4 linked regions of the Homo sapiens genome follow. The protein of the gene in region 4 purifies or fractionates together with the protein of the main gene of each other region. This does not show direct contact. Each region holds a gene or a part of one and is shown on either strand. Other genes may lie near its edges.

Region 1 (3,500 bases), on a different chromosome or scaffold from region 4:
TCTTCTCTGGGAGGATTCTGTCCCGTTGGGGTATGGCTTTGTGGGCAGAGCGTGGACTGAACTGCAACCCCACCTATCCTCTCAGCTGGGCACTTCTGAGCTGTGTGCAAGCCACACACTGCATGCTCACCTGCAACAGCATCCAGACACTGCTCTGGCCATAGCCAGTCATGCATTTTATTGCAAAGAAAAAGAAAACTTACAATTTCAAGAATAAGATGCCCAGATTTCTATCTTTTCTCCACACCTGTAGGCCCTAGGAAATCAGCCTGCTTTCCTCCTTACCAGAGCTACTGCTACCCACTCCACTTTGGGGTGTCCTTACTCAAGATGGGTGACAGAGTAGAATGCAGCTTCTCTTAACTCTCCCAGCCCTTCCTGGCTTCTCTGTTGCCTCTGAAGACCGGCAAGCAGGCCCTTTCCATTTGGTGGATGCCAGTGCCATTGACAATGGGCCACTGCTAGAGCTATGAGACACTCACAATCCGACCCGTCAGAGTCCTTTATCAGTTTCTAGCTCCCTTTTCTTATGTGGCTCTTGATAGCTCTGCTACTGGATGCTTTCTAGTTCTCAAACTTCCTGCCTCTTTGGAGCTTCCCTTTCCCTCCAAGTCATGCAGGTAAACTTCTCTCTCTAGTAGGCTGAGGGCAAGGGCCATACAGGAAGGCTGGTAGGAGCCAACCACCACTGAGGTGCCCTGGTTTCAAGGACTTCTTGGCTCTCCAGAAGGCGGATAACCACCTCAATGGGCTCCAACCCAAAAGGTCACCCTTAGGTGACTTCCTCAATGGAAGAAGCCGGGAAGCTACCTTACATACTCCCAGCTGACTGGTCTGCCTGGACGCTCTGGGCAATAAAGGGGAGCAGAGCCAGACTCCCCTCACTTGATGTGTGCTCTCCTCTCCAGGAACACATCCTTAGGTCTCAGATCTGAGAGAGAGAGATGCAATAAAGCGAACGCTGGCATTCAAAGTGAGCGAGGTTTGGAGGCTCCGATCCATACACCTAAGCAGCTACTGGTCCTGAATGACATATCAAGGTGCATGGCATGCCACTACTTAGAGACAGATGCCCTCCTTACATTTATTAATGGCATCCACTTCTGTACACAGCTCATAGGGGATTTCCAGTTTATATTCCCTCTCATTCCAGTTTTTTTCCTTCCTGTTTTCTTGACCATTAAAGTAATATATGCTTATTGTAGACAACTGAGAAAATGAAAACAGAAAAAATCCTACCCATCCAGAGGCAATCACTGTTAATAATTAGTCCAATTTCCTTTCAGTCTTTTTTCTACCCATCTATTGAGATCATTCTGTAGAAATTATTTAATACCTGCTTTCATTTGTTTAACATCAGAAGTATTTTTCCAGATTATCAAATTCTTGTAAGTAATTTTAAATGGCAACAAAATATCCCATTATATATCCCATTGTATAGGTAATGATGTATTTCAATGTCCCCCTAAACTTGTCTTCAGTATGTCTCCATTTTTTCCTAATACTATGACAAATAACATGTGACAAACATCTTTAACAACAACGTAGATTGGTGTGTGTCCCAAGAGGCTTTCCACCAGGGAGTGAAGGGAAACTTTCTTACCTAAAGGAAGGGCAGGATTTTTAAATACATTTCCCATTGCATAACAAGCATTCCATCGGACTTTCATGGCAGCTTCTGTTAGAACAGTAGAAATTAGGGCCTGGATAGACTCCTCAATGATTTCTGCAAATGTGGGTTTTTCTATATGAGAGGGTTGCAGAAAATGAAGCAAATTTCCAAGGGCCCGGACTGCATTGCTTTTTACCTAGAAAAAATGTAAATGCTTTAGAAATCTGTTTGGCCAAAGAGATGTTTCCAAAAGTCTAATTTCAGCTTTAAAAAAACCCAGGAGGTCTTCAACTTCTTAAAGCAAGTCCTTGGAACTCACAAGGTCTGCTCTGGTTAACATCCTGAGCCATCAGAAATGTGAGGTTCTACAGAACTCCTCTCTCTGATTATTTATTTATTTATTTTATTTAGTGCTAGACAGGACCTCAGAGAGGTCCATCTTCCTTGTTTTACTGAGATGGAGTATAAGGACCGGGAACAACAGGACAAGGCTGATTGATAGCAAGACAATGAGGAGAAGCTAGGTTCCATAATTCCAGTCCAATACTTTTCTACTAGACTAGAGTCTCAACCTCTGCAGCCCATCAGAATCATTTGGGGAGGTTTCTCCTTTTGTTTTAAAACCGATTCGGAGGCCCTAACCTCAGAATTTCTGATTGAATTACTCTGAGGTAGGGCTTCCTGGGTGATTACCAGATTTTCAGAAGTAGTATTAAAGTGAGCACATGGTATGGGTCAGGTACTGTGCTAGGTGCTTTAACATAAGGCATCTTCATATCCAGTGAGGTATATAACTTCCATGTTACATGTGAGGAGCTGACCTTCAGAGAAGTTATGTAATATACCAAACTTACCCAGTTACTAAAGGGCGAGCCAGGGCTTGAATCCATGTATGTCTGACCTAAAGCCCAGACATGTGCTTTTTAAACTTATTAGTTTAACAGGTAATATTCAAAGCCAAGAGCTACTCATCTTTCTGACTTGTCAATTTTTTTTTTTTGGAAAATAAAAAAAAGTTAATTTTAAAAGGAATCTGAATATGTCATGTAGTATTACAATGGGCACTGATATTTTTCAGGAGGCAGGAGACAGTAAAGAAACCATACACGTGTGGAATGGGCCATTTATACCCTGAGCACACCCTCAGTCTCTTTTGAACAGGAGTACATTTGGTGGGACAGTCTGAGGAACATCAAGCCACACTGAACTACCACACTGCAGCTACAATACATTAACTATCTGTTTGGGAGATACTGGGTTTTGTTGTGAGTCTACCTTGTCTTTATCCTTGGATGCTTCTATAGCTGATCGTAACATTTTCAAGAGCAGGAGACCAGAGAACTCTTCCTGGAAACTTGGGTCTGGTGTTTCCCTGTTCCACCCAAAGCAGACAACACATGTTAAAAGGTAAATACACTTAAATATATACATATAGAAATATATTCAATTAGTATAAGCCTAAAAGTTTAGGAAAACAGTTTAACAAATCTGCTTAGATTATATCAAGAAACTTACATTATATATCTTTTGACCCAATAGTTCCCCACATAGGAATGTCTCAAAAAAAAAAAAATCTCAAAATGCAGATTTCATGCACAAAAATATTCCCTGAATATAAAAGCCTACAAGCCTAAAGACTAAAACAAATGTTCAGTAATAGAAAAATGGTTAATCATCACACAGTGATAATTATGTAATCATAAATAAGGATTTCTAACAAGTCAATAATAGAATGCTTACACATTTTACATGTTGCTTATACGCTGAAGTGACAAAAAGCAGGACACGTGCACATGAATAACCAGCTACCTCTGGGGAGGGGAACTAAGGTGTCAGGGTAGAAGAAAGGCTTCACACTGAATGCTGCTTTGTACTATCTGGATTTTTT
Region 2 (3,005 bases), on a different chromosome or scaffold from region 4:
CACTGAATCCCAGCTCTGTCAGGGAAATAAAAAAGTCTCAGCTACTTCCCCAAAATTTTTACATAGATTGAATAAGGGAAGCATACATAGCTCAGCACAGTGGTTGTCACATATTAAAGTCAATAAACGGTGCTATTTTAATATTGATAACAGTGTTTAAACATATTTCAGTGTTTGCTAAAATCTTAGTAATATTAAGTCCTCTGAGGAATGCACTTATAAAGCACACAACTCCAAATCACTAAAGTCATCTGACTGGGAAAGCGGGAAGGGGAAAGAAATTAAGCTTACAGAAAATGCTTTTTTGTACTACAACTAAAACTATAACTAAAACTACTTTTTTGTACTACTATAACTAAAGAGTCATAGGTTAAAAAAAGGTAAAATTAGTCTGAATAAAAAAGACTAAGACTGGTAAATTATTAAATAGCAAGCACATAGTACATATTACGTTCCAAGAACCAATTTGTAACTTATCCTTTGGCAGTGATAGAACAGAACACTTTTACAATTTTTTAATTTCAAATACTGTCATTTTCAAAATACTACTGTCATGGTCTTTCAGATTTCATCTGTTTTTATCAGAACCTGGAAGAGGGAGGGAAGATACATAAGATGATAATGTATGTATCTAGGACTATATCACAGGCTACTTCTACACATGATTTTAAGTAAATCTCCACTTAATTTATAATTAAAATGATTTCACAATAACTGTAAGCTCAAAATATCTGAGACAGCTCTCAAGTCAGTTTAGAAAGTTTATTTTCCCAGGGTTAAGGTGTGCCCATGACACAGCCTCAGGAGGTCCTCACCACATGTGCCCAAGGTGGTTGGGGCACAGCTTGGTTTTACACATTTTAGAGAGACATGAGACATCAATCAGTATGTGTAAGGTGTACATTGGTCTTGAAAGGCAGGACAACTTGAAGAGGGGCGGGGGCTTCAAGCATAGGCAGGTAAGAGAGAAAGGGTTGCATTTTTTTGAGTTTCTGATTAGCCTTTCACTGAATATACAATTTACATGTGAGAGGAGAGTAGAGGAATAGTCAGTTATACCTTAATCTGGCTTAGTGAAACATGAAACAGAGAAAGCAATCATTTATGCATTTGTTTCATGTGAAGACTTTGAGTTCTTTGTCCATAAGGAATTCCCTTGTGAGCAAATTTTATCTTTGTGGCTGTCTTATTTAGGAATAAAATGGGAGGCAGGTTTGCCTCAATCAGTTCCCAGCTTGACTTCCCTTTGGCTTAGTGGTTTTGAGATTTTTCTTTCATATAACCTTAGTATAAAATTCATCCTTGATAGTGTTTATCCCTAAAAGACATTTTCTTCATTCAATTCATTCAAGGTAGAAGATAAAAATCAATGGCTAAATGATGTTGTCTTGCTCTAATACAGTCTGCAGTCTGGTTTGTTCGTTGGCTGAATAAACATGGGAGCTGAGAGCTCTGGAGAAATACAGCCATTTACTGGCTGTGAAATCTCAAGTTAACTACTCTAAAATCGCTTCGATTATGAAATTTAGACAATAATTATTAAAATGTCATTATGAGTTCCTGGTAATACCAAACACCTGTCATTTTACACAAATGCGTTTTGAATGTCTGAAAGACAGCTCCTGCCCTTAATTTAGATGTAAACCATTTAGTTTCAAACTAACCACCTGATAAAATCTATAAACATTTTATCATTAACTAGAGCAGATGTCTGTTATTTGATGTCTATGTTATTTGAGTTTACTGTTTAATAAGTGAATTCATATCAATTAATCCTGCTAACAAATTTGACACTTAAGGTGATTCTGAAAATCCTTTAAACTTAAAGTAGATGGAATCTTAAGTATGGGGCCTTTTAGTGTCCGTAAAGAAAAACTGCATGCAACAAAATATAGCAGGTCCTCACTTGTTGAGATTCATGGAAATTGTGACTTTAAATGAAATGACATGGCTGGGCATGGTGGCTCACACCTGTAATCAGCACTTTGGGAGGCCACGGTGGGTGGATCACGAGGTCAGGAGTTCAAGACCAGCCTGGCCAACATGGTGAAACCCCGACTCTACTAAAGATACAAAAAATTAGCCGAGCATGGTGGTGCACGCCTGTAATGGAGGCTGAGGCAGGAGAATCTCTTGAACCCAGGAGGCAGAGGTTGCAGTGAGTCGAGATTGTGCCATTGCACTCCAGCCTGGGCGACAGGGCAAGACTCTGTCTCAAAAAATAAATAAAAATAAAATGAAATGACGCATAAACCAATTTTTTTTCCTCATCGATGTTACAAACCACTTAAGGAAATGACATCATTCAAGAACATTGTGCTACGTGTCATTTTGCTTAAAGTCAGTTTCTAAGAACCTTTCGATGGCATTTAAGGACTTAACTGTAGTTACAATTGAGTGCTTACTATGTGTCTTGCACCTCTGAATATTTAACGTATTACCTCATTTAATCTTCACAACAACAACTTATGTAGGTAGTAGTATAATCTCGATTTTACTGAAGAGGAAACAAAGGTTAATCTGGCCACGGTCACCTTACTAGTGAGTGGTTGGAACAGATATTTGAGAACAGGCAACATGGCTTCAAAATCTAAGCTCTTGCCTACCCACTAACTACTCCCTTTCAACGAAAGACTAGTAGGTTATTTGAACCTGAATACCCTGAAAGTAACAAGCAAATTTTATAATTTTCTTTCTGTTGTCAGCATATTACAAATTGCAATGAAAATTCTTTGTTTTCCCACCAATTATTTAGAAGATTGTGTTTTCAGAACTTTTATAAAAGCATCTTTTGGAACTTCAACGTTGCCAATTTTCCTCAGCTTTTTTTTCCCTTCTGCTTGTCTCTTCAAAAGCTTCATTTTTCGGGTAATATCACCACCATACTGAAAAATATTTTAAAACATTGGAAGTCTAAGTCACTCTAAAGAGAAACAATCATATGATTACAGCGGCATCAGTACAACCTTAACAACCATACCAAATTATTATCCATAAGGCAGACA
Region 3 (3,500 bases), on a different chromosome or scaffold from region 4:
AGACATGAAACAAACATAGGTTATCAGTTTTCACAAATTTTTTAAAAAGTATAAACACTTCCAGAAGGTCATACTTCTATCAGAAAACCAGTAGTATTCAACTAGGAGCATTAAAAAAAGAAAAACTTATCTAGTATAACTCCTTAGTTGTATGCGACTGAAAATTAACATTTTGTTAATCAGTATTCTGTTTAGGAATTTAACAATACATAGAAGATACATGCTTAATACATCTTAATGCAATTTCAAATTTCGACTTGAGAGACTATGGAGTTCCAGGAAAATCAGTCAAGCTTACAAAGTACTGCTACAGCTGACAGTACTTTGAATGAATGGTTTCATTCAACAAACTTGGCTAAAGAATAGCTTCTCCCAGGTATTAGGTGCAATGCATTTCTGAAAAGTATCGAGGAAAAAAGCATCTCTCTTGCTGTGCTTCTAGCTCTATAGAACAGAGTTTCATCAAGGGTGAGGCAGGCAAATTAGGGGTGGGATGTTGAGTATCTAGTGTCAAAGACCAAGAAAGAAAAGACAGAATGAGAAGATCATAGATGACTACACTGAAGCATCAATATTCCTTGACAGAAGGGTATCTGATGAGAGAGAGGACAGAGATATGAGAAGGCAAGAATAGCAGAAGTAACCAGAATCTAGACAGTGGCATACTGAAAATGAGAAGAAATTTTAAAAATCAATTTATTAATTGAAAAAGGCAAGATACAAAATAGTATTTCCTTTAGGATTACATTTTGTAAATGTATAGTCAAATGCACACACAGGTGAAAAAGAATATATGTAACATATTAACAGTGGTTATTCCTGAGTGGTGAAATAATGACTTTTTTTTTTGCTTATCTGTGTTCCATGCTAACACTGGTATAAAATGCAAAAACTGGTATGATGATTTTGCATTGGACAGTAATGAACACCCACAGGATTCAAAGATAAAAAAAAAACAGAAATAATAATCTTGCAATGTTAACCACAAGTTCTGCTTTTCTCAGAATATGTTCTTTAGCACTAATTTATCTCTGAACTAACTTGCAAAGGCTGATTTAAACCAATTTATCAAGTCTAAGAGCCCCATCAATTTCATCATAATAAATTATCAGAATTCTAAATTATCTGGTCTGCTGGGAATGAACTAAGGGGGCCAAAAGGACTGTTACTGATGTGTGTAGAGAAAAGAAAGTAGAAGCCTGAAAAAAGAGAAAGCTCCAAGCTTTTAAGATGACAATTAGGCCAGGCACGGTGGCTCACACCTGTAATCCCAACACTTCGGGGGGCCAAAGCGGGTGGATCACGAGGTCAACAGATCAAGGCCATCCTGGCCAACACGGTGAAACCCCGAATTTACTAAAATCCAAAAAATTAGCCAGCGTGGTGGCACGTGTCTGCAGTCCCAGCTACTCCGGAGGCTGAGCCAGGGGAATCGCTTGAACGTGGGAGGCAGAAGTTGCAGTGAGCTGAGATCATGCCACTGCACTCCAGCCTGGTGACAGAACAAGACTCCCGTCTCAAAAAAAAAAAAAAAAAGACAACTAAATTAGAACTCTTTGTGTTAATGAATCAAATGTATCAGTTGTATTAAAAATAATGAATCATATAAGTCCCGACTGTCAACAGTCTGAAAACATAAAGCAATTTCTCCTTATGCTGTAGATACATGAAGTATGATCTTACCTTAGACATCTTTTGTGAAGCTTCGTCTGTTAAAAAAAAAACACACAGACACACATAAACGCACATACATAGTATGTATGTATACGCACGTATATTTAACAGCGTGAACTGACCTGAAGAAGACTTACACATACATAGGCAATGTAAAAAGAAAATACAATTTCAGGACCTTCCAAATGCATTAGGCCAAAGGGAAAAGTTAAGCACTGACAGCTGGCTCGTGTAACATCACTACTTTTATTCTTTCTGACTTTTGTGTTTAGATGTATATATTAACCAGACCCCCTATTCTTTATTCAAAACTAGACTAAATGACTGGGAGATGAGAGATCCTTATGACTGTTACTTCTTTACAAAAGGAAGTTAAACAAATCCCTTCAAGTGTAATCAATAGTAGCCAATCAAATTTGTATCTTTAAATGAGCCTTAGTTCCGAAAATGTTATAATTCTGTTTGGCACCTCCATTTTGCCTATATAAACAATCCTCATTTTTCCCCACCCTGGGAGCGCTAATCACCATTCTTTGGTGTAGCTCGCTTACACTCTGTACTTAAATGAATTCTTTTAACTGAATCAGGAGCCTTTTGATTATTTTAGGTGACAGCATCTCAATTACTTCAAATATTTCCCTAGGAATAAGACAAGCATCTATCATTACAAAAATAAATTCGATTAAAAAAATTAGGCCAGACGTGATGCTCACGCCTGTAATTCCAGCACTTTGGGAGGCCGAGGTAGGCAGACCACTTGAGGTCAGGAGTTCAAGACCAGCCTGGCCAACATGGTGAAACCCCATCTCTACTAAAAATACTGATTCAGCCAGGCATGGTGGCGCTTGAGGTCAGGAGTTCAAGACCAGCCTGGCCAACATGGTGAAACCCCGTCTCTACTAAAAATACTGATTCAGCCAGGCGTGGTGGTGCGTGCCTGTGATCCCAGCTACTCAGAAGGCTGAGACAGGAGAATCGCTTGAACCTGGGAGGCGGAGGTTGCAGTGAGCCGAGATCATGCCACTGCACTCCAACCTGGGCAACAGAGTGAGACTCCATTAAAAAAAAAAAAAAAATTAGATGGTGGCTGGGTGCAGTGGCTGACGCCTGTAATCCCAGCAGTTTGGGAAGCAGAGGCAGGACTGCTTGAAGCCAAAAATTCAACACCAATCTGGGCAACATAGCAAAACCCTATCTCTACAAAAAATTAAAAAATTAAAAAAATTTTTAAGTTGATAAAAGCAACTGTATATATATATGTACGCACATATTCCATATTTTCAATAATATTCAAATTTTTTTTCAGTACTGACTATATGTTAGACACTAGGGACACAAATGGGATACACACGGATACATACTTCCCTGACCTCTGGAATTATGTCATTTCCCCTCTCTCTTTGAAACCTTTCAAGGAGTAAGGGACTTCATTACATAGAGCACTGTAACTTGAACATGTTTGCCACCCACTGGAGTTTCCTAGAGCTACCTGAGAACTAGATTTTGACACTGGGGTACAGAGAGCAATGTGAACTACATTTATGAGGAAAGGAAATAGTACTGAAGGCATCTGAGTGTCTGAAAAATGTGACAATATTTTTAAAGATATGTGGAATTTTTTTTTCTCTTTTCTTTTTTTTTTTTTGAGACGGAGTCTCGCATTGTCTCCCGGGCTGAAGTACAGTGGGTGATCTCAGCTCACTGCAACCTCCACCTCCTGGGTTCACGCCCTTCTCCTGCCTCAGCCTCCCGAGTAGCTGGGACTACAGGCGCCCGCCACCATGCCCGGCTAATTTTTTTTTAATTTTTAGTAGAGATGGGGTTTC
Region 4 (3,500 bases):
GCCATTTGCAGAGGTGTAGGTATTGTTATATGTTTATATTTCAGTTTCTTGTGCACTTGTTGCTAATTTAAGAAGTTTCTGAGCTGGGCACGGTGACTACACCTGTAATCCCAGTACTTTGGGAGGCTGAGGCGGGCAGATCACGAAGTCAGGAGTTCAAGACCAGCCTGACCAACATGGTGAAACCCCGTCTCTACTAAAAATAGAAAAATTAGCCGGGTGTAGTGGCACACGCCTGTTATCCCAGCTATTCAGGAGGCTGAGGCAGGAGAATCGCTTGAAACCGGGAGGGAGAGGTTGCAGTGAGCTGAGATCGTGCCAGTGCACTCCAGCCTGGGCGACAGAGCGAGACTCCGTCTCAAAAAAAAAAAAAAAAAAAAAAAGACGTTTCTGGATTTCACTACATGTTTCAGAAGCCATTCCTCAATCACTTCCTATTCCATTGTTTTATTTTCTTATATCTATTACCATCTGAAAATATTTATTTATTTATTTTTAGTCTGTCTTCCTCACTAAAATATAAGCCACATGAGGACAAGGACTTAGGCTTTTTTTGTTCACTATTCAGTATTTAGGACAGTATTTAGGACAGTCTAGCATATAATGGGCTTAATAAACATGTATTAATTGAATGGTCAAAAAAAATTTTTTTTTCTCCATTTTATAGCCTGCCTTTACATAGGGTGCCACTAGATGGCAATCATGCCTTTTTAGGCACTATGATGCTGGAGTTTTGGGGCATTAGAGGAAACTGAGAAATTATTGGCTCAAAGTAGAGAACTTGAGGTCAGAATTAATGAGCTTAAGAATTGAGAATGTGTGAATTATCACAGCAGCTCAGAGGGAACTATAAGAACCAATAATATTCGAGATGGTAAAAAGTACTTAAAATGAAATGTACAGTGTGGCTTTTTGTTTGTTTTTACTGCTCCATTCCTATTGCCTAAAACAGTACCTGGTTTCTAGTAGGCTCTCAATAAATAATAAATATTTTGTAAATGAATAAAACAGGGCCTAACTATATTCCTCTTCATATAAGTTCTTTGTTTGAATGTACAAATGGTTGACATTCTAGAATACTTTGGTCAGTATTATGGACTTAGAATATGAAATTTCTGTATGGATATAAATTTCTACAATGACTGTATTTTGAACCAGGTTTTTTTCCTGGCAGAAGAAGTTGTCCTCAACTATCAGTAGGTTTTTAGAGGTATGTATTGAGTCTAAATTCTAGATTCCTGTTTAGTTATTAGCAAAATAATTATAAGAAATTGAAGACAAGTTAAATATAAAATAGAAAGATATTGTTTGCTCTTGTTCCAGATGAACATCACTCGAAAACTATGGAGTCGAACTTTCAACTGTTCAGTCCCTTGCAGTGACACAGTGCCTGTAATTGCTGTTTCTGTGTTCATTCTCTTTCTACCTGTTGTCTTCTACCTTAGTAGCTTTCTTCACTCAGAGCAAAAGAAACGCAAACTCATTCTGCGTAAGTTTTTTACAATTATTTATTTTATAGATAAAAGCCTGTATTTTAAAAATTTAGGCCTGTTTTAGAAATGATAGCTACTCTGAGAACTCAAAGTAGATTAGCCTAAAAGGACTCTCTGCTTTAAGTTTTACAATCATGCTTACTAGTGAAAGAGATCTGTGAAAATTTTATAAGTGTGGACAATAAAAAGTTAAAACAGGGCTAGGTGCAGTGGCTCATGCCTGTAATCCCAGCACTTTGGGAGGATGAGGTGGGCGGATCACGAGGTCAGGAGATCGAGACCATCCTGGCTAACACGGTGAAACCCCATCTCTACTAAAAATGCAAAAAATTAGCCGGGCATGATGGCGCATGCCTGTAGTTCCAGCTACTCGGGAGGCTGAGGCAGGAGAATCATTTGAACTTGGGAGGCGGAGGTTGCAGTGAACCGAGATCGCACCACTGCACGCCAGCCTGGGAGACAGAGTGAGACTGTCTCAAAAAAAAAAAAAAAAAAAAAAGTTAAAACACAGTGTCTTTCAGATGATTAAATTGAGAAAGCTAGATTACCCCTGGAATAAGGTTGGCAACAACAGAAGAATAACAACAGAGGCTTTGCACTCCTAACATGGCAATAGCAGGGAGATACAGACAGCTCTTAGACCCATCGGAGTCATGGTAGAACCACCTAAGTGTGGCAGGCAGGAAGAAACTATAGCTGACATAACAGACAGTTTGTTTGTGAACAAATTGGAATCGTAGTTCCAAGGAGATTACTTGATATAATAGTATATGCTCAATACATATTAATTCCCTTTCTTTCTCCCTATGAAATAGGCCAGAGCAAAAGAAGCACTAACTAGAGATCCCATCCAGCTAAGGAAGAGTGGCTTCTAAGTCACGTGGCTTTCTTGTTTATTATCAGAATGAAAGTACAGGCTTATGCCTTAATAATTTTAGTTTTTAAAAAAGAGAACTGTTTAGGGGAAAAGGTTAATTTTCTTTTCTCTCAAATACTATTTGTAGTCTAGGAATGTCTGATATAAAAATTCTTTTCCCTATAAATTTCGATCACTACTTCATCTAACTTCACTTCTAATATATCTAATTTTTTTAAAAAAAGGTTACCTGTAGATCAGTTTGAACTGAATTTGTAATGTTTTGTCACCTTAAAATGCTAGCTACTAGAGGGGAGAGTCTTTGTCATGGGTGTATTTATTAAAGGTTTTTTGAAGGCTGCCAGCATTCTGTAAATATGCAGTAGCTCAGGTCCTTAAAGCACTTACTTAGAATAATAGCAAAATATTGTGGGCACCTCACCATTGAGAAACTATTTTTCAGAGCTTGGTATACTTTTAAAGTTTAGCATCTTATTTGCCTTGCTAATCTATTTAACTTTATGGAAAGTATTTACTGCTTCTGATCAGGATTTTTTGTTTGCTGTCAAAGTAAAAGTCACTACCAGTGTCACTATTTGCTATGGAAGCCACAAACCTTGTAGTCATTTCTTAATTATTTTCTTTCTTTTATTTTTCCATTCCCACATTCCCCTCTCATCCCCTTTTAATTCATTAGCAAGTATGCTGCCAGTTCTGCTTAGTCCGTCTCTCTCCCTCCACTGGTAAACCCTAGCCCAAACCATCTTCATCTCTTATCTGTACTAACGCAAGAGCCCCTTAACTGGTATCCCTCCTTCCATTTCTTGATCTACTAAAATCCATACGCCACATAGTGGCTAGAATAATTTTTTAAACACAAATTCACCATGTTTCTCTACTAACTTGGAATGCTTAATGTGTTCCCATTGTACCTAGAATAAATCCAAACTTACTTTCCAGGGTCTGCTCTCCAAGCTGTACATGACCTGGCCCATAGCCACCTTTCTAAACTCGTCACATCCATTCTCCTCATTGCTCATGGTGCTGTGGACAGTCTGGTTCCTTTCTGTTCTTCTCCACTACCAAGCTCATTCACACTGCCCCTTTTCCAAGGCCCTTCCCTCTTTACTTACCTGGCTTCTTGCAAGCCA

What was found. Proteins that work in one complex are often made in the same cells at the same time.
Region 1: the proteins of OSTM1 (region 4) and HEATR6 purify together in Homo sapiens (co-immunoprecipitation; one large-scale study listed by IntAct). This does not show direct contact.
Region 2: the proteins of OSTM1 (region 4) and GUF1 purify together in Homo sapiens (affinity purification with mass spectrometry; one large-scale study listed by BioGRID and IntAct). This does not show direct contact.
Region 3: the proteins of OSTM1 (region 4) and SEPTIN2 fractionate together in Homo sapiens (co-fractionation; one large-scale study listed by BioGRID). This does not show direct contact.

Annotation. Positions count from the first base shown.
Region 1 is NC_000017.11:60,044,422-60,047,921, forward strand, and holds part of HEATR6 (HEAT repeat-containing protein 6), read right to left. Parts: intron 2,985-3,500; coding exon 2,888-2,984; intron 1,809-2,887; coding exon 1,604-1,808; intron 1-1,603. UniProt on the Homo sapiens protein: Amplification-dependent oncogene.
Region 2 is NC_000004.12:44,698,424-44,701,428, reverse strand, and holds the end of GUF1 (translation factor GUF1, mitochondrial), read right to left. Parts: intron 2,886-3,005; coding exon 2,748-2,885; 3' UTR 501-2,747; downstream 1-500. UniProt on the Homo sapiens protein: Promotes mitochondrial protein synthesis. May act as a fidelity factor of the translation reaction, by catalyzing a one-codon backward translocation of tRNAs on improperly translocated ribosomes. Binds to mitochondrial ribosomes in a GTP-dependent manner.
Region 3 is NC_000002.12:241,322,425-241,325,924, reverse strand, and holds part of SEPTIN2 (septin-2), read right to left. Parts: intron 1,710-3,500; coding exon of another isoform or gene 1,693-1,709; coding exon 1,684-1,692; intron 1-1,683.
Region 4 is NC_000006.12:108,047,242-108,050,741, reverse strand, and holds part of OSTM1 (osteopetrosis-associated transmembrane protein 1 precursor), read left to right. Parts: intron 1-1,158; coding exon of another isoform or gene 1,159-1,210; intron 1,211-1,323; coding exon 1,324-1,489; intron 1,490-3,500. UniProt on the Homo sapiens protein: Required for osteoclast and melanocyte maturation and function.